Linked DNA regions of Homo sapiens: region 1 is linked to region 2. The links come from fine-mapping of genetic effects on gene expression. A gene starts in region 2. The other region holds a variant in brackets. All regions are shown on one strand. Distances are between the middles of the regions.

Region 1 (10,890 bases), 27 kb after region 2:
CATGAAGATATTTGTATCCCATGTGAGTGCTCAGCAATGAGTGACTCCAGCAGAGGAAGATTTTAATAACCAAGTGGATAGGATTACCTGTTCTGTGGACACCATTCAGCCTTTTTCCCCAGCCACCCCTTTCATCGCCCCAACGGGCCCATGAAGAAAGTTTCCATGGTGGCAGGGATGGAGGTTACACATGGGCTCAGCAACATGGACTTCCACTCACCAAGGCTGACCTGGCTGTGGCCACTGCTGAGTGCCCAATTGACCAGCAGCAGAGACCAACACTGAGCTCTCAATATGGCTCCATTCCTCAGGGTGATCAGCCAGCTACCTGGTGGCAGGTTGATTATATTGTACCTCTTCCATCATAGAAAGAGCAGAGGTTTGTCCTCACTGGAATAGACACTTAGTCTGGATATGGGTTTGCCTATACTGCATGCAATGCTTCTGCCAAGACTACCATCTGTGGACTAACTGAATGCCTTATCCACCATCACAATATGCCACACAGCATTGCCTCTGACCAAGGCACTCACTTTACAGCTAAAGAAGTGTGACAGTGGGCTCATGCTCATGGAATTCACTGGACTTAGCATGCTACTCAACATCCTGAAGCAGCTGGATTGATAGAATATTAGAATGGCCTTTTGAAGTCACAATTACAATGCCAACTAGGTGACAATACTTTGCAGGGCTAGGGCAAAGTTCTCTAGAAGGCCATGTATGCTCTGAATCAGTGTCCAATATATGGTTCTGTTACCCCCATAGCCAGGATTCACAGGTCCAGGAATCAAGAGCTGGAAGTGGAAGTGGCACCACTCACCATCACCTCTAGTTATCCACTAGCAAAAGTTTTGCTTCCTGTTCCCATAACCTCACGTTCTGCAGACCTAAAGGTCTTAGTTCCAGAGGGAGGAACGCTGCCACCAGGAGACACAACAACAATTCCATTAAACTAGAAGTTAAGATTTCCATCTGAACACTTTGGGGTCCTCTTACCTTTAAGTCAACAGACTAAGAAGGGAGTTATAGTGTTGGCTGGGGTTATTGATCCAGACTATCAAGATGAAATCAGTCTACTACTCCACAACGGAGGTAAGGAAAGAATATGCACGGAATACAGGTGATCCATTAGGGTGTCTCTTAGTATTACCATGCCCTGTGATTAAGGTCAATGGGAAAGTACAACAGCCCAATCCAGGCAGAACTACAAATGGTCCAGACCCCTCAGGAAGGAAGGTTTGGGTCACTCCACCAGGAAAAAAAACATGACCTGCTGAGGTGCTTGCTGAAGGTAAAGGGAATACAGAATGGGCAGTAGGAGAAGGTAGTCATAAATACCAGCTATGACCACTTGACCAGCTGCAGAAATGAGGACTGTAACTGTCATGAGTATTTCCTCCTTCTTTTGTTAAAAACATGTTTGTGCATGTATACACTTGTACTGAGAAATTATCCTCATTTTATTTCCTTTTCCTTTATCATGTGACATAAGATTAATTGACTTCATATCAGCATTTAAGTATTGTTAACTTTATGTAATAGTATTTGGATGGGGGTATTGGTGCATTTCCGGTTGTACGAAAGATAGTTGTATTATTTTAAGTGTAATTATGACCTTATTATTGTCTTTATTTGAAGATTATGTATGATCTCAGGAGATATATATGGGTTCAAGTTGACAAGGGGTGGAGTTGTGATAGTTAATACTGAGTGTCAACTTGACTGGATTGAAGGATACAAAGTATTGATCCTGGGTGTGTCTGTGAGGGTGTTGCCAGTAGAGATTAACATTTGAGTCAGTGGGCTGGGGAAAGCAGATCCACCCTTAATCTGGTGGGCACAATCTAATCAGCTGCCAGCAAATATAAAGGAAGCAGAAAAATGTGAAAAGGAGAGACTGGCCCAGCCTCCCAGCCTACATCTTTCTCCCATGCTGGATGGTTCCTGCCCTCTATCATCAGACTCAAAATTCTTCAGTTTTGGGACTTGGACTAGCTCTCCTGGCTCCTCAGCTTGCAGACAGCCTATTGTGACACCTTGTGATTGTGTAAGTTAATACTTAACAAATTCCCCTTTATATGTATATATATAATATATGTACATGTGTATATATAGGGGAGTGCACAGTATATTGTTATATGTGTTCTATTTTATCTTATTGTTCATCTCTTGCAGTGTCTAATTTATAAATCAATTATTTTCAGAGGTATGTATGTATCAGAGAAAACATAGTATATACAGCATTTGGTATTATCTGTGATTTTAGCCATCCACTGGTGGTCTTGGAAATAATTGCCCCATCCTCAGGTAAGGGAGTGCTACAAAGATGTGGACCAGGTGATGAGAACAAACGAGAGAGTGAGGGACACAGAAACCAGCATAACAAGAAGATTTTAGGAGAGGAATTAGTGTTTCTACAGTCTGCTAAGGACCAGAACCTTGGAAGAAGGGCCCAGTGTGAGACCTACAGAAACAGCTACTGACACAGAGACAATGGTGTAGCAAGGAGAGGACAGGGAAGAAATAACTCATCTTTTCTTTTCTCACATGCTCCAATTTCATGTTAATGCCTTCCAATGGCCTAACTCAACCGGAAGCTAACTAACCAGCAAGGTTCTGGAGCATGCTAACGAATCTGCATGAGTCAGCCTCTGGCAATATAGAGCCAGGAGAGGACAGAGAATGGATTTTGGAGAGACAAATGGAGAATAACCATTACATTACTACTATTATTCACAAATAGAATTATCTGAGAACTCTTTCTGAAAACATCTTTTTCATGCACAGTTTCAACTGGAAGTAAAAACTTACTGGGTTTTGTAAACTTAAGCATCCAAGATTTTAAAGAATCATTTCTCAGAGCCCTTTGGCTGGAACATTCCTAGTAGCATTTAGGAAGGATTTCCAGAAGTCTTGGGAGGCTTTGCAAGCCAAAATCTGGAAGAATTTGAGAGTATGCTTTTATTGACTTCCTTTGGGCATCCCCAGGTCTCTCATCATTTGGTGGTTTCCTGTGTCAGCACCAGTCTTACTATGCCTGGTTAGTCACTTGCTGATTGTTTTCAAGGAAGCCAGCCAGGCTTCAACAAAGGGTGACTACCTCAAAACAAATCAGCTGCACAGCAATAGGAACTCCTACTAATGGCTTCCCTTGAATTCACAAACTGTGTAGATTTTAGAATGAAGTAACATTTTCTCTTTCCAACTTTGCCATCCCTGTCTCTTCCTCCTGAACCTGAACTAACCCACAGACAAAAAAATGGAAGAGGACAGTGGTGGAGAAGCATGCTCTCTTTCCTGAAGCCTTAGATTAAAATTATACTCAAGGCCGGTTGTCATGGCTCATGCCTGCAATCTCAGTGCTTTAGGAGACTGAGCTGGGAGGATAACTTGCGACCAAGAGCTCAGGATCAGGTTGGGCAACATAGCAATATTCTGTCTCTGCAATAAATAAATAAATCAAATTATCTGATTGTGGTGGCACGTTCCTGTAGTCCCAGCTACTGAGGAAGCTGAGGTGGGAGAATTGCATGAGCCTGGGAGTTCAAGGCCACAGTAAGTTAAAATTGTGCCACTGCAATCCAGCCTGAGCAACAAAGGAAGACTTTAACTCTAAAAAAAAATTATAGCCAATATCAGAGTCTTGAATATTCACTGTAAACATCAGCACAAACAAAAGCCCGATTTCTAAATCTCATAGAAACTAAGAGTTTGAAAACTTGAGAGGACTGATATAAAGTTGGAAGTCAGTGTTTCAAAGGAGAGAGACAGAGTTAGCTATAGGAAAACAGAAAATTAGGAGTGGAAAGCAAAGAAGAGTCTTGTAAGTAACATATATAGCTGAACAATAAATACAAGTGAAATAGATTGACTTCTAGAATGGCAGTGTGGGAAACTCTGCTGAGCCACTCCTCAGTGAAACTGGTGAAAATTGTGTGTAAAGAAACAACCACTTAAATTCTCTGGAAATGGTCCTAAGGGCAAATGGTAAATAAAGAAATACCTATTAGAGGAAATTATGAATATCTGTCAAGAGAGGTGAGTCTGTGACATTTGAACTGAAACTACTACTTTCCTTGCCCCTCCCAGCTCAGTGAGGCAGAGACTCTACTCCAGACGCTGCAGCCAAGAATATGACTCTTTATATTCCTTAGGTGTCAGCTGCAGGGCTTTCATTGCAATAGGACATAACTTGAGCTTTTTTGGTCCTGCCCGTAGCTGTCTGTTGCTAAGGCTAAGTCTTAGGTGAATACAACTGGGAGGAGGAAGCTTCCTTCTCCCACCCAACACTTTCTTGTAAAAAGGAAGTTCTACCTTGGGTGTGGTGCATTGAGAATGAAACTACCTTTGCAAAAATTATGACAGTGAGAGAAATGTAACCTAGCTGACACTGCCATACTTCTAACTTAACAAGCTAACTGTGTTTGCTCATTCCTGGGTGTAGGCGAAGCTAATTGTGGAAGGAATTTAGCTTATAGTTTAACTTTAAATAAAGGATAATAGTCTCCCCCAAAAACTGACCCCCTCTGGGGACTGAAACCACCTTTGTAGGACTAATGAAAGGCCAAAAGCTTAGGATTATGAGTGGGGAATGAATTCTGGTAAGATGTAGATGTAGTTAAATGATAACCAGCCACAGTTCCGAAGATGACAAGATTTGTAAGTTCTTTAATTGCTCTTATAGATACCAACGGTATTGTCAAAACCCAATATTGGTCTTTGAGGTATTTTTCAGACTTTTGCACTTTGGCTGACCAGTTGATGCCACCTGGATCTGTGACTCATACCAG[G/A]GAACTGACTTAACCAATCCTGTGACCCCCTACCCTGAAACTGACTCAGCACATGAAGAACATTTTGGATACACCTATGATTTCATCCTGAACCAATCAGCAGGACCTAGTCCCTAACCCCCTGCCTGCCAAATTATCCTTAGCCTCCGAGCTTTCAATACTTAAACTCTTTCTTTGCTGCAGTATCTGCTATTTTCAGGGAATTGGCTTTTCTGGGCAGTGGGTAAGATGAACCAATTGGGCTGTTAACAGGAATACTGGAGCCTTGGGAGCCTTTTCCTTGGCCTTTGAAGTAAAGTTTCCACACCATGAGTGGCAAGCTGAAAGACCTGCAAACTCCTCTCTCACCCCATCCACCAAGCATTCAGCAATTAGAGCCAGGGTATTACTCAGAGAGAAGCTTGTCATTGTTTCCACCCCCAACTCCGTGCTCTAGCTCAGAAATTTTGCCTAGGGAGAGAATCAGGCCATAAAGCATGCAACTCTTTATCTCTTCCCAAGGGATCTTACTTTATTCCAAACAAAGTGTAGATAATTTTAAACTTAAGGGCACTCTCAAGAACAGTAGAAGTTGTGGTGAAAAGCAATTGAGAGGAAATTTTGGGACCAAATGAAGATATAGCCTAGACTGTAGGCCAGCTAGTTTGTAAGAGAGAACTGGGAAATAAGATAGCTGACAGGAGCTCTCTTGGAGTTAATACAAATAGCAAACACTGATCTCAGAAACTTTCCCATATAAAGTGTCACAATATTATTAGATTTATTTGTATATCTTTTTTTTTTTTTTTTTTTTGAGACAGAGTCTCACTGTGTCTCCCAGGCTGGAGTGCAATGGCACAATCTCAGCTCACTGCAACCTCTGCCTCATGGGTTCAAGCGATTCTCCTGCCTCAGCCTCCTGAGTAGCTGGGATTACAGGCACCTGCCACCATGCCCAGCTAATTTTTGTATTTTTAGTAGAGACGGGGTTTCACCGTGTTGGCCAGGCTCGTCCCAAACTCCTGACCTCAGATGATCCTCCCGCCTTGGCCTCCCAAAGTGCTGGGATTACAGGCATGAGCCACCATGCCCGGCCAATTGGATTTATTTGTAAAGAAAAAATTATGTTCCAGGGCACTGTTGGAAACAATTAAGCAATAGGCCAGAAATTAGTAGAGTTTAACAGCTAGGTGTAATCAGCGAAAGGGTGGGAGAGAATCTTACCAGTACCACTACTATCCCAGGATAATTGTTAGATATACCCAGAACTGTGCCTCACTGATCAGAGAGCATCAGAGGCTTACCATGATGTGTATGTTGAAAAGTGAGGGAATGGAAGCCAGGGAATAGACTTCAACTAAAATAACTCAGCACTCACTAAACAAATAAACAAGAAAATAATAATCGCAATCCTAGAGGGGGGCGGGGTACCAGTTTCCAGAGTTACTAAGATATATTATCTAAAATGTCCAGTTTCTAACAACAAATTATGAGCATGCAAAAGAATGGAAAAGTATAAATTGTATACTGGATGAAATACATGCAACAGAAACTTCTTATCAGGGTAAATTAAACAATTAAATCAAAAAGCAGAGATTATCAGACTTGATTTAAAAACATGCTTTAACTATATGTTGTCTTCAGGATAAACTTTATATTCAAAGACATAAATAGATTGAAAATAAAAGGATTTAAAAATATCAAAGACCAGGTGCAGTGGCTCATGCCTGTAATTCCAGCACTTTGGAGGCTGAGGTGGGCAGATCACTTGAGGCCAGGAATTTGACACCAGCTTGACCAACTTGGTGAAATCCCATCTGTACTAAAAGTACAAAAATTAGCCAGGCATCGTGGCACACACCTGCAGTCTCAGCTATTTAGGGAGCTGGGGCATGAGAATCACTTGAACCTGGGAGGTGGAGGTTGCAGTGAGTTGAGATGGTGCCACTGCACTCCAAACTGTGTGACTGAGTGAGATCCTATCTAAAAAAAAAAAAAAAAATTCAAGCAAACAACAACCACAAGAAAGCTGGCGTGGCTATACTAATAACTAAGTTAAACAGTTTTGCAGGATACAAAATCACTCTGCAAGAATAATTTGTATGTCTATACACTTACAATAAACAATATGAAAATAAGTTAAGTAAACAATTTCATTCATATTAGCATCAGAAAGAATAAAATACCCACAGGAGCAAATTTAACAAAATAAACGCAAAATTTATACCCTGAATACTACAAAATATTGTTAAAAGAAATTACAGAAGATTAAATAAGTGAAAAAACATACCATGGTCATGGATAGTAAGACTTAATATTGTTAAAATGGCAATATGTTGATCTACAGATTCAACATAATTTTTATTGGAAACCCAGCTGACTTTGCTGACATTGATGGCTGACTCTAAACTTAATGCGAAATTGCAAGGAACTCAGAATACCAAAACAAACCTGAAAATAATAAATAAGGAGAGCTTATATGTCTTGGTTTCAAAACCTACTACAAAGCAATTGTAATAATAACAGAGTGATACTGGCACAAGACAAACATTTTTATTTATTTGCTTAGGTGCCATAGCAGAATATCACAGACTGGATGGCTTAAGCAACAGAAATGTATTCTCTCACAGGTCTTGAGGCTGAAAGTCCAAGATCAAGGTGTCATCAGGAATGGTTTCTGGTATGAACTTTCTTCCTGAGTTGCAGATGGCTGCCTTTTCACTGTCTTCTCCTATGTGAGCATGCACTTGTGGTGTTTCTTTCTCTTGTTCTAAGGATACCCGTCCTATTGGGTTCAGGTCCTACTTTTATGACCTCATTTAATCTTCATTACCTTCTTAAAGGCTGTATCTCCAAATACAGATGGGTTAGGGCTTCAATACATGTATATGGGGGGCAGGAAACACAATTCAGTCCATAACACAATGCACAGAATTGAGAATCTAGAACTAAACCCATATCTCCATGGCCAACTCATTTTGTGCACAGGGTCCTAAAACATTAATGGGGAAAGAATAATCCCCACAAATTGTGCTGGGACAATTGGATAGCCACAGGCAAAAGAATGAAGCTAAACCCTTACCTCATACCATACACAAAAATTAACTCAAAATGGATCGAAGTCCTAAAAACTGAATGTTCTTAGAAGAAAACATAGAGGTAAAATCTTCATGATTTTGGATTTTCTAAAGAATTCTATAATATGATATTCAAATTAAAAGCAACAAAAACATTGAGAACTTGCAAATCATATATTTGATAAGAGTCTTACAGCTACAGTATAGAAAGAGCCCTTGCTACTCAATAATAAAAAAGTGATGCAATTAAAGAAAGAGCAAAGGATTTAAATAGACATTTCTCTAAAGAAGATTTAAAAATCACTAATAGGCACTTGAAAAGATGCTCAATATTATTAGTAATGAGGGAAATTTAAATCAAAACAACAATGAGGTATCATTTCACACATACTAGATTGGTTATAATAAAAAGGACAGATAATAACAAGTGTTGCCAAGGATGTGACAGTTCTTCAGAAGGTTAAGTTATCATATGATCCAGAAATTCTATCCTTTGATAACATATTCAAGGGAGTTTAAAAGATATGTTCGCACAAAAACTTGTATGCCCATGCTCATAGGATCACTATTCATAACTAAAAAGTGGAAACAACCCAAATATCCATCAACTGATGAATGAATAAACAGAATATCTTATATGTATACAATGGAATAATATTTACCCATAAAACCTAATGATATACCGCCACACACTACAACAAGAATGAACCTTGAAAACATTATACTAAGGAAAATAAGCTAGGTACAAACTGACAAATATTTTATAATTCTACTTGTATGAAGTATTTAGATTAGTAAAATTCATAGAGGCCAAAAGTAGAACAGTGGGGTGAGGAGGAAAGGAGAGTTATGATTTAGTGGGTACAGAGTTTCTGTTTGAAACAACGAAAAAGTTCTGGAGATGGATAGTGGTGAAGGTTGCACAACAGTGTGAATGTAGTTAATGCCACTGAGCTGTACACTTAAGGAAAAGTGTTAAAATGGTAAATTTTATGCACGTATATTTTATCACAACTGCACACATTGCAGGTGAGATAATATTTTGTGATGGGGTTTTAATGTGGAGGGAGGGTAAAAAGACACATATGGTGGTAATGTATCTATAGTCTACCTAAAGTAGTGAAATACTTATTCTACGTAGACTGTGCAAAACTAGCATGCTATCTTATAAGCCCTAGTGCAATTGCTTAAAAGCTATACAAAATATATAATAAAAAACAATGGATAAACCTAAATCACTAGCTACCACTTCACAACACTAGAATGGTTGTAAGAAAAAAATAATAATAAGTGTTGGCAAAGATATGGTAGGTAATTTCTCAAAAAGTTAAACACAAAGTTACCATATAATCCAGAATACTAAAAAATGCTTAACCTAAAATAGGAAAGGGAAAACAGGAGAACAGAAATGAGATACACTGAACAAAAACAAATAATAAAATGGTAGCTCTAAATGCAAACTTTCAATAATTGTATTAAATGAAAATGTTCTAAACACACCAATGGAAAAGACAGGGAAAAAAAACCACCACAAAACAAATTTATGCTGTCTACAAAATAGTGTGTTCAAATATATTTGATCAAAAAATATTAGGTCAATAGTAGAATGATAAAAATGAACACCTGAAAACATTAATCAATAGATATCTGCAGTGGCTATATTGATTACTGATATAGACTTTATAGCCAAAAAACTACCAGGAATAAAAGGGTCAGTATATAATGTTAAAGGAGTCAAATTATCAATAAGATAAAACCATCTTCAATCTGTATGCACCTAGTAATAGTAATTAAGTTACACAAAACAAAAAGGAATGGAAGTTAAAAGGTAAATAGACTAATATACAATTATAATTGAAGACTCCAATACTATTTTCTCAGTAACAGAATAACTAGTAGACCAAAAAATCAAGCAGGATATAGAAGAAAAAAGTATCACTATCGAACAACTGGATCTAATTGGCATTTATAGAACACTCCCCCAAACAACAGCAAAATATACATTTTTTCCCACATGCAATTGGAATCTTTACCAAGATAAGACGTGTCCTGGAACATAAAAAAAAATTAACAAATTTAAAATATTTGGAATATATGAAGATGTTCTCTGACCACAGTGGATATTAAACAAGAAACAAATATCAGAAAATTAACAGGAAAATTTCTAGACCCTTGGAAGTTAAATAACACGTATTGAAATAACCCATGTATCAAAGCAGAAATCTCGAGAGAAATTAGAAAATATTTTGAAATGAAGAAAAATGAAAATACATAAATTTTTTTTTGATGCAACTAAGTCACTGTTTGGATTAAAATTTATAACAACAAGATACATCTATCAGAAAAGAAGAGATCAGGTGCAGTGGCTCATGCCTATAATCCCAGCACTTTGGGAGGCCACACTGGGCAGATCGCTAGAGCTCAGAAGTTTGAGATCAGTCTTGGCAACATGACTAAACTCCATCTCAAGAAAAACACAAAATTAGCTGGGCATAGTTATGTGCGCCTGTTTTCTCAGCTACTTGGGGGCCAAAGCTGGAGTATTGCTTGGGAGATGGAGGGTGCAGTGAGCTATGTTTGTGCTGCACTCCAGCCTGGGTGACAAAGTGAGACTTGAAGGAAAGAAAGAAAGAAAGAAAGAAGGAAGGAAGGAAGGAAGGAAGGAAGGAAGGAAGGAAGGAAGAAAGGAAAAAGAAAGAGGGGAAGGAAGGAAGGGAGGGAGGGAGGGAGGAAAGAAGGAAGGAAAGGAAAGGAAAGAAAAGAAAGAGAGGGGGAAAAAACATTCTAAAAAAAAAAAATCTAAGCTCCCACCTTAAACTAGAAACAAGAAAAAAAAGAAACAGAAAGAAATAGTAAAAATAACAACATAAATCAAATGAATAAAAAGCAGAAACACAATAATCAAGGAAAACACAAGCTGATACCCTTAAAAGATTGATACAATTTATAAAGCTCTAGCAAGATTTACAAAGAAAAAAGAGACAAGACACAAATTTCCAGTATCAGGAATAAAAGAAGAGACACCATGACTGACTTTGCAGGCT
Region 2 (10,890 bases):
AGTGAAAATGCGTGCATTCAAAAGAAAACCCCCTCAAACAACCCACCCAATCAAAACTCCACCATCCTGGCTCTTGTGTGTGAGTGTGTCTGTGTGTGTGTGTGGGGGGGGGTGTGTGTCCCGGGTAAATATTTGAATGAGGTTCCTGGGAGGAGAGGACGTGTGTGTGCGCGTTGGGGGGGCGGGGGGGCGGTGAATGTATGTGTCTTTGTGCAGGGTTTCGGGGTGCAAGGAAGCGGTGGATGTTCTCGCGTGTTTATTCCTGCAGGTGGCTTAACTGTGCTTGCGCGCGCGTGGAAAGCTGGGGTCCTTTCCGAGTCAATTATGCGAGGTCATGTGCCTGGAGAGGTGGTGGCGCTCCCTGAAGGACTCATTGCAGATGGGGCACTTGAGTTTCTCCTCTCGCCGCCGCTTCACCAAGGGCTCCATCGCATACTCCTTTTTGTGGTGCGACCTCATATGGTACACCAGGTCGGAGGTCATGCGGAAGGAGGCATTGCACTTGGCGCACCAGTTCTGCGCGGGCAGACACAGCGAGGTGAAGGAGGGCGGCAGCAGCGTGAGCGCCGAGGGCAGCTGCAGCTGCAAGGGCCCCGCGGCCGCCGCCGCAGCCGCGGCTGCAGCGGCAGCGGAGCTCTTGGGCCAGAAGGCGGTGGCGTACAGGAAGGGGCTCTGCTTAGGCAGGCCGCCGCCGCCGCTCGGCAGGGACCCGCAACCTCCGTTCAGGTCCGCGGCCCCCTGGAGCTTCACCGCTAGAGGGTCCGCGGCGGCGGGATAGAGTCTGGTGGGGCCCACGCCGTCGGCGGGGTGGCATGGCTCGAGCGCGCCCAGCTTCTGGCCCAGCACCAGCGGGGACAGCTGCGAGAAAGAGCGTGCTGGCTGCGAGAAGGCGCTTTTGCGCTCGTCCGACGCGGCGCCCTGGCCCCCGCCCGCGCCGCCTGCGGCCCCGGCGCCCGTTCCGCCCCCACCGCTGGTGCTGCCCGCGCTGCCCAGCTGCGGCACCGAAGTGAAGGCGCTGCCCCTCGCAGGACTGCCGCCCTCGAGCCGGCTGGGCAGCGGGCCCCCAGGCCGCGGGGCCAGCAGCTTCTCGGCGCCCACCGGTGACGCGGCCGCGGGCGTGGAGGAGCCGCCGCCGCCGCCAGCGTCCTGGTCCTCGGAGGCGACTCCCGCGCCGTCGGCTGTCCCCTCCTCCTGCAGGCTGGCCGCGCGGGCAGCCTTCTTCACCTCCACGAAGGCGCTGCGCTTCGCCTCGCCCGTCTCGGGACTTGGCGGCGCGAAGAGGCGGCCGTTCTCTTCCAGGCCGAAGTAGCTGCCCGAGGCTCGGTACTGCTGCGGTGTGCACACCAGATCCTCCTTGGAGGCCGGGAGGGGCCGCTCTACGAAGCGGCCCCGGCCCCCTACCAGACCAGCGCCACCGCCGCCCTCCGCCGCCTCCTCCGGGAATTTCCTCTTTCCTTTGCCGCCGCCCGTGGCGATGCCGTCGGGACTCAGCTCCGCCTCCTGGTGGCCGCCGCCGCCGCCGCTGCCGCTACCGCTGCTGAGGCTCTGGGCTGGGGAGCAGCTGCTGCCTCCCCGGGAGTTTTCCAGCTCCCTGGCCAGGTTGTGGAAGTCTGTGGATGGCTTCGCGCTGCTGCCGCCGGCGGCAGCGGATGGGTTGCTGCTTTCCGGGGAGGGGGATGGGTAGTGGTGGAGGGGGCCGGCTTTGCAAAACTTGGGACCCGGGCCTAAAGGTGCCTCCTGCTGCTGCTGCTGCTGGTCTTTGCCACCGCCGCCGCCGCCCCCGTGGTCCTTGGTGCCCACGCCGCCGCCTTGTTCGTCTTGGGGACTTATATCAGCGCTGTGAAGTCTCTTGGGGCAGCGGAAACGCAGATGCGCCACATAGGGGAACTCAAACTGGAAACGTTGGCTGCATTCCAGGCATGTGTAAGGGGACGACCCTGCTTAGTGAGCAAACACCACACACACGCACGCACGCACACACACACACACACGCACACCACATGATTACTCAGCATCGCCCCCAAGCCAGTTTGCCACCATCCCCTTGACAAATCCACCTTCATTTCTCAGGGCCTGAGTGCCTGAGAAAAGAATGACCAACCTGATCTAACTTTCCCTCCTGATTTGGAGGGAATACAGCAAACAAGCAAGTTTCCTCGCTTTATCCTCACCTATCTGTTTAACTTCATTCCAGACTACATCTCAGAATCTTCCTATGAGACACCCGAAGGGAAGAAAGGCGCGCCAACGCGCCGGGTGAGCCCCTGCCGCTCCCTGCGTCTCTCCCCCGCTAGTTAAGGGCCCACACGCCGGTCGCGAGCCAACCTACCATTCATTTTGTTGTGGGATCTAGAGGGGCAGAGCAAGAGTAACTCAGTCAGTTCTTTCCCGTACCAAACTAGTAACTCCTCGTCTTTGGCAATCCTGCGGAGAGAGCGGTAGAACAGCTGTCCGTTTTTTATGTAGGCTTCAAGGTTCTGCTCTTCCTTATCTCTGGCCGATTGGACCAACCGCAGCCACATGAGACCTTCTGAGGAACCATTTGCTGCTGAGGTGTCTACCTGCGGTTTGAAATAAATGAAAGAAGACAAGAAGGAGAGGGGGAGAGGGACCCTCATGAGGGAATGAAATCAGAAGAATCAAGACCATTTCTTCTATGTTAGTCTTTTCCAAAAATTGTCTGAGACCACGCTTCCAAAAGTTTGGCCCAAGCTGGGACCTGTCCTCATGTTTGTAACCATTAGGCAAGATAACCATTCTTTGAAACACTGCATCAATCATATAGTTTATTTAAGTCACCGTTTTTATATATTGGTTGAATACTAAATGAGGAAATTTCTTCTTATAATTTAGTGTTAACCCCTTGAGAGTTTACTTCTAAGTTATTCCACATTACAAAGGTATGGAGAATTTTGTTTGTTTCAGAAATAAAGCAAGCTTAGATCTTAGAAATTATGCTATGGCAATCATGTTCCTAATCTTGGCTAGAACAATTAATAGATTTTCTTTGTAAAGAAGAATAGGAAATGAGAGGTCTGAATCTTCCAATTCAGACATATGGATTTGATGATGCTTTACTGTCAAAACCATAAACATTTTTATTTAAATACAAACTCTGGGCACTAGCTAATATTACCAAAGAAACTAATCTTTAGGGGATGAAGAAGCCTCCTCAAATGGAAGGCAGATGTACCCAATACTTGTCAAAGAACTTGCAGAAACTAGTTAGTATGCAAATAGCCTCCACCCCAGTGAAATCTCCCAGAGTTTAGGAAGTCGTGTTCATCACCAGGATAATCCAGAACTGAAGCACTGATTTAGATATTTCTAACATTCCAAATCAAATTTTGTCATTTATTCCAAAAAATCAGTTGACAATAATTTGAGTTTAATTTTCCTTTTCTAATTTTTGATGTGTGAAATGGGATTGCTTGCATTATTGCATTTTTCCACAGGCAAAACCTATCTCCACTTGTCATTATAATTATTTTTAGTCCATTTCCAACAGGACATTACCCTCATACACCTACACAGCTACAGTGGAGACTTACCCGAAAGATATACGGTACTGTTCTCTTGTCAGTAGACTTGAGAGCTATGAAAGCTATGCTGTCATATAGGGAAGTATGGCTCAGGACACAGGGACCAAATATAGCATTCTCAGGGATGTCGCAGGTGGTGTAAACGCTGGTAAAAATATCTGTCAGACATTGTTGGACAGCCTTGGCATCTCCATCCCAGATGCCTCGCTGGATGCCAGTATCCTCCATCACTGGAGATAGACACACAGCACAAGAAAGTGAGTTATGTTACTGCTTTTAACGCCATTAACCCAAGCAGAACTGTCCAAATACTAGGTAGATTTTCCTTGCACATGCCTGATTTTTGCATAGCTCTTATTTCAAAATTAAAGCAGATAAACATGGCATATTTTAAAGATGAAAACTAAGGGATACTTGTTAAAATAATTAGAATAGTGGGAGATCTGGAGCTGACTGCTTGGGAGAAAGAAAAGAAAGGGCTAGGAAAGACTAGATAATTTTTGCATTACCTTGATGTTGGATTGGGTAGGTTTTAGAGGTGAAGTTCCAGGCAGAATTATATATATATGTACACACACACACACACACACACACACACATATATATATATATACATATATATAATTTTTTAAACCAGCCTATAGACTTCCCTTACTGAAAGAAACTTCTAACCCTTGGGGGAAAGTGCCTGTCTGCCTATGTATTGAACTGGGTGCCCGGGAGCTGATTTTTTTCTTTTCTTCCAAGGAGGGGAACAGCGTTAGTGAGCAGGCGGAGACAGCGGAGCATGGCGAATGGATTTCAAGTGGAATGTCAGGGCCACTAATTCTGTGTCAGCTAACCTTTCTCTGCAGCCTACAAGAAGGGACGTATGTCTGCTCATTACCATAATCCAACACTGTTCCTCTGAGGCTTTAATTAAAAGCAGCAAGCAGAGGTAATTTTTTTTTCTGGACGTGCTTATTTATGGATGAGAGTGAATCCCGGTTACCTTGTTATACAAGGGGGTGGATTGAGTCACATGTGGCTCATGAAGTGAGCAGGTACAGGACAGGCCTAAAGTGTCCCCAGTCTGAAATACTGTGTGTAATGACTGGTAAATTTTCACTCCCCCTACCCCATATGACCCTTTTTGGGCAAGAGGGGGCAGCCCTGCTTGAGCACTCCTCAGTGGGCTCCCCAGCTGTTTAATCCGCAGCAATTTAGAAAGTAATGCCCCAATGCCCTTTATTAAGGTGTCATAAAGGGACATTTTCCTTCCTCTGGACACCCCATACAAGACTTATCACTAAAAAAAAAAAAAAAAAAAAAAAACAAAAAAAAAAAAACCCAAAAAAACCCAGGTATTTAAATTTTTAAACTAGCTTTGAACTAGCTGCATTGCTTAGTATTTCAGACTAATCAAAATATTCCTCCAAGTTTGTTGTTCCCTAATAATGTCACTGTTGGCAATTATTTATGTATGTTTTATATAATTAAAGTAGCAGGAAAGAGTAGATCTAATTCTTTTCCTGCAAAGCTGTTCATTATGGAATAATGTCAGTGACATCTATTTTTATTTTAATTTATATTAACCAGTTAACCTTACACGTGTGATTACAAGGTGTGCTTTTTTCCCCCCATTCCAGCTAACATAGCCTAAAACTTTGGTTAGCCTCATTTTCCATTCATCCTCTTGCATCCCCCAAATGTCAAGTGTTGGGCTGTATCTCCCAGACAGCAGAAATAAGGGAAAATATCCATAAAGTAGAAACTTTTTTATTCTGCATCATCTATCCCTGGTCATTTTTACCCCATACAAGGTAGACATCCTGATTTTTTCATTTCAAATTAAAATACATTTTAAAAACCCCATAACCTCTTATCTCCTTTTCAACGGAATCCTATTCTCCTCTTTTCAATTTCCTTCAATTCAGCGTTTTATTCCCCAATTTCTCTCTTCCTTTTAAAAATCTCTTTCACACAAGCATTTCATTGTGCCGGGAGGTCGCCCCGTCACTTCGGGCAACAGCAGGGACACAGTCATTAAAATGCAGTTCTACCTAACAATACGGCAAAAAGGTCCTCACTACGCCGCGCTAATAGCGGTCGGAGTCGCAGCGCCAGGCGCCACGAGCCTCAAGCCCATCACAATAACCGCTGGGCAAGAGCCTAGGAGCGCCCGCCCGCGTGCGGTCGCCTTTGCCACGCAACGTTTCACAGCTCCGTGCCCCGCTCTAGGCCCAGGTTCTTATCCGCCTGCCCTGGGAATATACCCCAGAGCCGGCGGGGCTTTCTGAAAGCCGGTCGCTGCTGCCCGCCACTGGCCCGTCCCTCTAGGCAGGCATTGTCTGGCGGCCGCGCGCTCCCCAGTCTCCGGCTTCTCCGGCAAAGTGCTCACCACCCGCTCCTCCTTTTGTACAATATTACTGGCAGTAGACAGCCCCTCAAGAATTATTTTTCTCTCTCTTCTGGATAATAAGGAGACGGAAGACAAAATGTTCTACTCTTTCCACCAAACTGTCTTCCTCCCATCCCCCTCCCACATCAATGCAAATAGACTTACCAGGAATAAGGTCAGTATAGAATCTCCCAAATAAGGCCACCTGGAACCGGGAAGATGCAATCGAGTGTTTCCTTTTGCCTATTGTATCAGTGTATTTCCATGTCAAGAGGTGTTGGTGTTGCCGCCTTTTAGGCTCTTCCTGAAGAGATAAGAGAGAGATGGAGAGATGGGGAGAAAAAGATTGGGGGGGTGGAGGGAGGGAGGGAGGGAGAGAGACGGAGAAACGGAGAGAGTTGTACAGATGGACCCGATGCAGTGACTGACTGGCACGCAGACACACACTTTTTGTTTGCTGCACATAATCTGCCCAATGACGCGTGACAGCCCACGTCCCCTCCCTTTAACTCTTTGCTGGGCCAGGCGCTCCCTCCGGCGCCGCCTGCCTCGCAGCTTTTTCCCCCGGCCTGCCCGCGCCCCGCAGATCCTGAGCGCCTACCCCGGGTGGCAACGCCTCTCAGAGAGCGTCCCGGCCCGCCTCCTCCTAAAGCTCGGGCCCTCTGGGACTGCTAGGAGGGGAAAATCGTTTCAGGATTGGAAAGGAAGGTACCAAAATGATTGGAGAGGGCCTTTCCCCGTTTCACTAGGCACTTGGAGAAGCTGTGACAGAGAGCTGGACACCCAGCGCGTGCGGACCCCGTGCGTATTTCCCCGGAGTCCGCGTTCCGTGAAAGGGAGAGGGGTGCGGTTAGCTCCAGGGATTCTCTAGCCCTGGAGCCACCGCTGATTTGCGCAGCTAGTTGCCTGGGGGTGATAAACGGGCGTCGTCTCTCTTCAGGAGCGCCAACACTACCAAGCTTCCCCCTGCAAAATTCAGAAAGGATGCGCTTTGGTGAGAACTTGGCTCAGCCTTCCCGTGGCTTGGGAGATGAGGTTGGAGTGAGAATGTCACCAGACCTCGGAAGGGGACATAACGGTACCTCCTAGTCCCAGGACACGGGTACGTGGGCGGAGGTGGGGTGTGGGAGGTTGGTGGGAAGAGCGCAGGTTACTGGACTCAAACAGTTCCTGTTTTTTTTTTGTTTGTTTTTGTTTTCGTGGGGTTTTTCCCCCCCTCTGCTTGGTGCGTTCTGCGCAGCCCCAGAGGGAGTCTATAATGGGTACTGTTGGCACTCTGAGGTCTTGGGGTTGGGGGGCAAGGGTGATTAAAAATAAAAATGATTACCAAGATGGGCTCCGGAAAGCTTTTCACATCCAGCGGGTGGTGGAGGAGGGGATGGAGTTGCCGAGGCCGTCTCGGGAGCCTCGTTTGTGCGCTAAGCCACTTAGAGGCGCTGACTTGCCCCTTTAGTGCAGCAGCTGATGCTAATGACTTGAGGTCTTTAACAGCCTGCAAGTTGACTCCTTCAACGGGGCTGCAACACCACGTCGCTGGGGAATCTCGGGCTTCTTTTTCACAGTTCAATTCTCTACTCCTAAAGGAAGAAAGGCCTTTGAGTGGTATAGACAGTTTCTCAACTCCTTCAGCCCCACACACACCACCACTACTTTGAAGTGGGCAATCTGTCAGCATTAGGATAAATCGGATTGTGTAGCTAGCTAAAGTGGAGGAGGCAGAACCACAACGTAAGGAGACAGCCTCGTTGTTGTTTTTCCTAGTGTTGAAATAATGTATTTGGGGAGTTGGCAAAGAGCAGCTTACCATGTTAGTTTGATCCTCTCCCAGCTTTGAGACCCTTCTCTGGAACTCAGTGGGGTATTGAGGCTTTGACAGCCTGGTGACTGCAGTCCCAGGAGGCCAGGGGAGGATTTTGCTGAGGAGAAACAAGTGCAAGGACTTTCCCATGAAGTTCATGTTCTTCCTTGTTCTCTCTCTCTCTCTCTCTCTCTCTCTCTCTGTGTGTGTGTGTGTGTGTGTGTGTGTATTTCCTTCTCTTTTCTGGTTAGTACCCCAGGCAAATTCCGAATTGCTGCCTAGAATTAAGCTGAAATTCACAGAAGGAAGGGCTGCAAAATCCCCATATATTCAGAGAAAATGGGGAATCCCTTAGTTTTCAGGTTAGCTACTGACTTTTCAAAGAAAGCTTCTTGAAGTGCAGTTTTATGTACTTTGGCTATGTGCAATTTTATCTACTTCGGCTAAGGTTGGCTCCTAATGACCAAGGCTCAGTGCAATGAGGGCTCTCTCACATGCCTGTATGTAAGAATCTGCAGCTATACTGAGCTACCAATTGTCTTCTGACTGATTGCTCCATTGAATACTAGATTCACTTCTCAGTCTCTCTCTCTCTCTACACACACACAAACACACACACACACACACACACAAAGTATGGACACATGGTCCCCTAATACTTCTTTAAAGAATGGGTGGAAGCATTAGAAATGTGAAAATAATGTCTCAAACATCTGGAAAATAAACCTCAGGTTTGAAGAATAGTGGCCAGAAACTTAAGTTAATTCAGAGTAGAAGAAAGAAGAAAAATAAAGAGCAGAAGAGGCACGGGTGTAAACAACTTCAAGTTAAGAAAGAAAAGTAGCCATAAGAGAGTCATGTGGTCCCTTAGAAACTAGACTGATAAATGCAATATGGTGTGTGAGGAGCAGTGTTTAAGAACATAATTTCATTAATCTGTCTAACAGAACACTCCTTAATGCTTTCTTTTGCTGTTATTTAGAGAATTGGAATTTTATCTTTCAGGAAAAGTCATCTGTCCATGCAAACCATTAAAAAATTATCTTACATATTGTAAATATGTAAGCCTCTACTCCAGAATGTGGACATTTAGAAAATAAACTCTAAATGGAAGGCATTTTTCTTGTGCCTGGCCTTTCTCTTATTAAATACAGAGACCATTTAAACTATATTTCTTTTGAGGTACTAAAACCTTGACTCCAGTTTGTATAAAATAATGTTTTTGGTACTTAAGTTGAGGGTGGAACAGCTTGACCTTTTTATGTCTTAAGCTAGAAAACAGCGACAATTTTATACATCTGAGAAGGGAGCAATTTATTGAGAATCTGGCCAACAGATGCTTCATTTCAGTTTCACTTTTTTGCCCTCTAATTAATTTTTTTCCTACTGCTTTCAGGTAGAGATCCTTAAATATAAGAATTTCTCACATTTTATGAATCTGACCTACCCTTTTTATTATGAGTTAAATAACTGACATAACAAAACAATATAAGTAAGATTAAGTCGAAATTCTTACTTGAAGAGTTTTCTAGTAATTTAAGTGGTACACATTTTGCTTGGTAATATAAATGTCCTAAATGACAATAATTAATAGGGGATAAAGAAAATCTACAAATTATTTTTATTTCTGTAGAAATTTATGGGCTAAAATGGTACATAAACTACTTTGAAATCACTCTGCATTAATACTTACTGGAATTCACTGATACTAAATGAAGGGTTGAGGCATTTATTCAGCCTCAGACAGTACTATAAAAGTGTACCTAGTCAATAGTTTTATGTAATTCATATGGAACAATGGGTTTATGCATATATTTGGAGCTCTCTTCCCTAGGATTTTATTTCCAATTAAGTAATTAGAAGAATGACAATGAAGAGTGGGTATGCTCACCTTGTTCCACTTTAGCAAGGCTCTTTGGAGTCCTGGCAAAAATACACATGTAGGAAACTGTAGTGTTATTTTGGAAGAGTGGGCTGGAGAGAGGTTGATAAATGACACCCCAGGTGGCTTTTATGACCTAAGTGAGAGGGTGGAGAAAGGGTAAGAAAGGGAATTTTAATTCTTAGGGAGTATTAGAATGGGAACACTCTTTCTCTTCCCAGGGTTCAAAAATGGAGCCCAAAATATTTCAACTTCTGTGATAAGAGGCAGGTAACATCTCCAAGAATAATTCACGTAAAGATTATTATCCCATGAGAATGAAAACACACTGATTTTCTTTTTCTATATCTTTCTAGGTCCTGGCTTACCCACCTCTAACTCTATTGCCAAAGCACTATGCCAGCAAAGGCTTGATTGTCAAAAGAGTATGGCAATTCATGGTGAAAGGGGGGGAAAAAACCCACACACTGGAAGATAAGAGGATGCCAATGGAGCAGACAGTGGCAGCTCCTTCCTAAGCTTATTAATTTCCCACAGGGAGGTCTCTGGAAGGGGCTGTGAGGGTTGAGGGAGGAAGAGAATAGATCTTCAAGGAGGAGTATTGTATTACCTAGCCTCACCATTCAGAATAAGGAACTTTTTAAGGGATAAACTTTACTGACTACTTGTACATGAAAGAGAAACAGAAATGATGGGCTGGTCAATTAAGAAAAACACCAGGCCTGTGCCAAAAATGTTGTTCAGAGGGTTGTTAACTCATTTTCTACCACTTTGCCTTTATCAAGAGAAAGATACATGGTGGGTTTTTAAAAAGACCCAGAGGGGTTTGTTTGTTTGTTTTACATTTTGGTGAGTCGAGAAGAGCCATGCTTGCTGAGTTGGGTAAAGGATGATGTGAGGGGGTGGGGTGTGGGAAGGGCTACTCGTTTTTTATAAGTATACATTGCAAACTCAGTTTAGGTCTGTTCCTCACCCTAAGTATTGTAGTTGGCTCACTGGGTATTACATGAGCAAATGTTTTCCAGGCTGGCCCTGGGAAAGCCAGAGACTCAGGGTTGGGTAATTTTGTAGCCTGTGAGGAAGGACTTCAGGCTCCCAACTGTAGGGATCATTACTTCTGACTCATACTTTTCTCTCTTGGGCTTTTCCTCGTAAATGATCCTGCTTTTAATCCTGCTGCTCCTGCAGCTACTACTACCACCATTATCATTACAATGATAATCTACCTTTCTCAAGTTTAAAACTTTCTCTCTTAGCCATTCCCAAGTTTTACTTACACTTGTGTTGG

What was found.
Region 1: its variant is fine-mapped to the expression of PRDM8 in fibroblasts (GTEx, PIP above 0.99).

What each region holds. Positions count from the first base shown.
Region 1 is chr4:80,165,738-80,176,627 of GRCh38, reverse strand. No RefSeq gene overlaps it. Among named protein-coding and RNA genes, the nearest start is that of PRDM8-AS1, 26 kb to the left of the region's middle. The variant G/A (reference allele first, on the strand shown) is at 4,791.
Region 2 is chr4:80,192,961-80,203,850 of GRCh38, reverse strand. PRDM8 (PR/SET domain 8) reads right to left here and starts at 6,348. Exons shown (of 4, transcript NM_001099403.2): 1 at 6,088-6,348; 2 at 3,552-3,772; 3 at 2,330-2,561; 4 at 1-1,937. The coding sequence starts at 3,770. The coding sequence ends at 319. It overlaps PRDM8-AS1 (PRDM8 antisense RNA 1), which reads left to right and starts at 6,507. Exons shown (of 6, transcript NR_183912.1): 1 at 6,507-6,723; 2 at 6,863-7,024. RefSeq lists silencers at 826-925, 1,386-1,465 and enhancers at 1,828-3,027, 6,505-7,120, 7,121-7,738.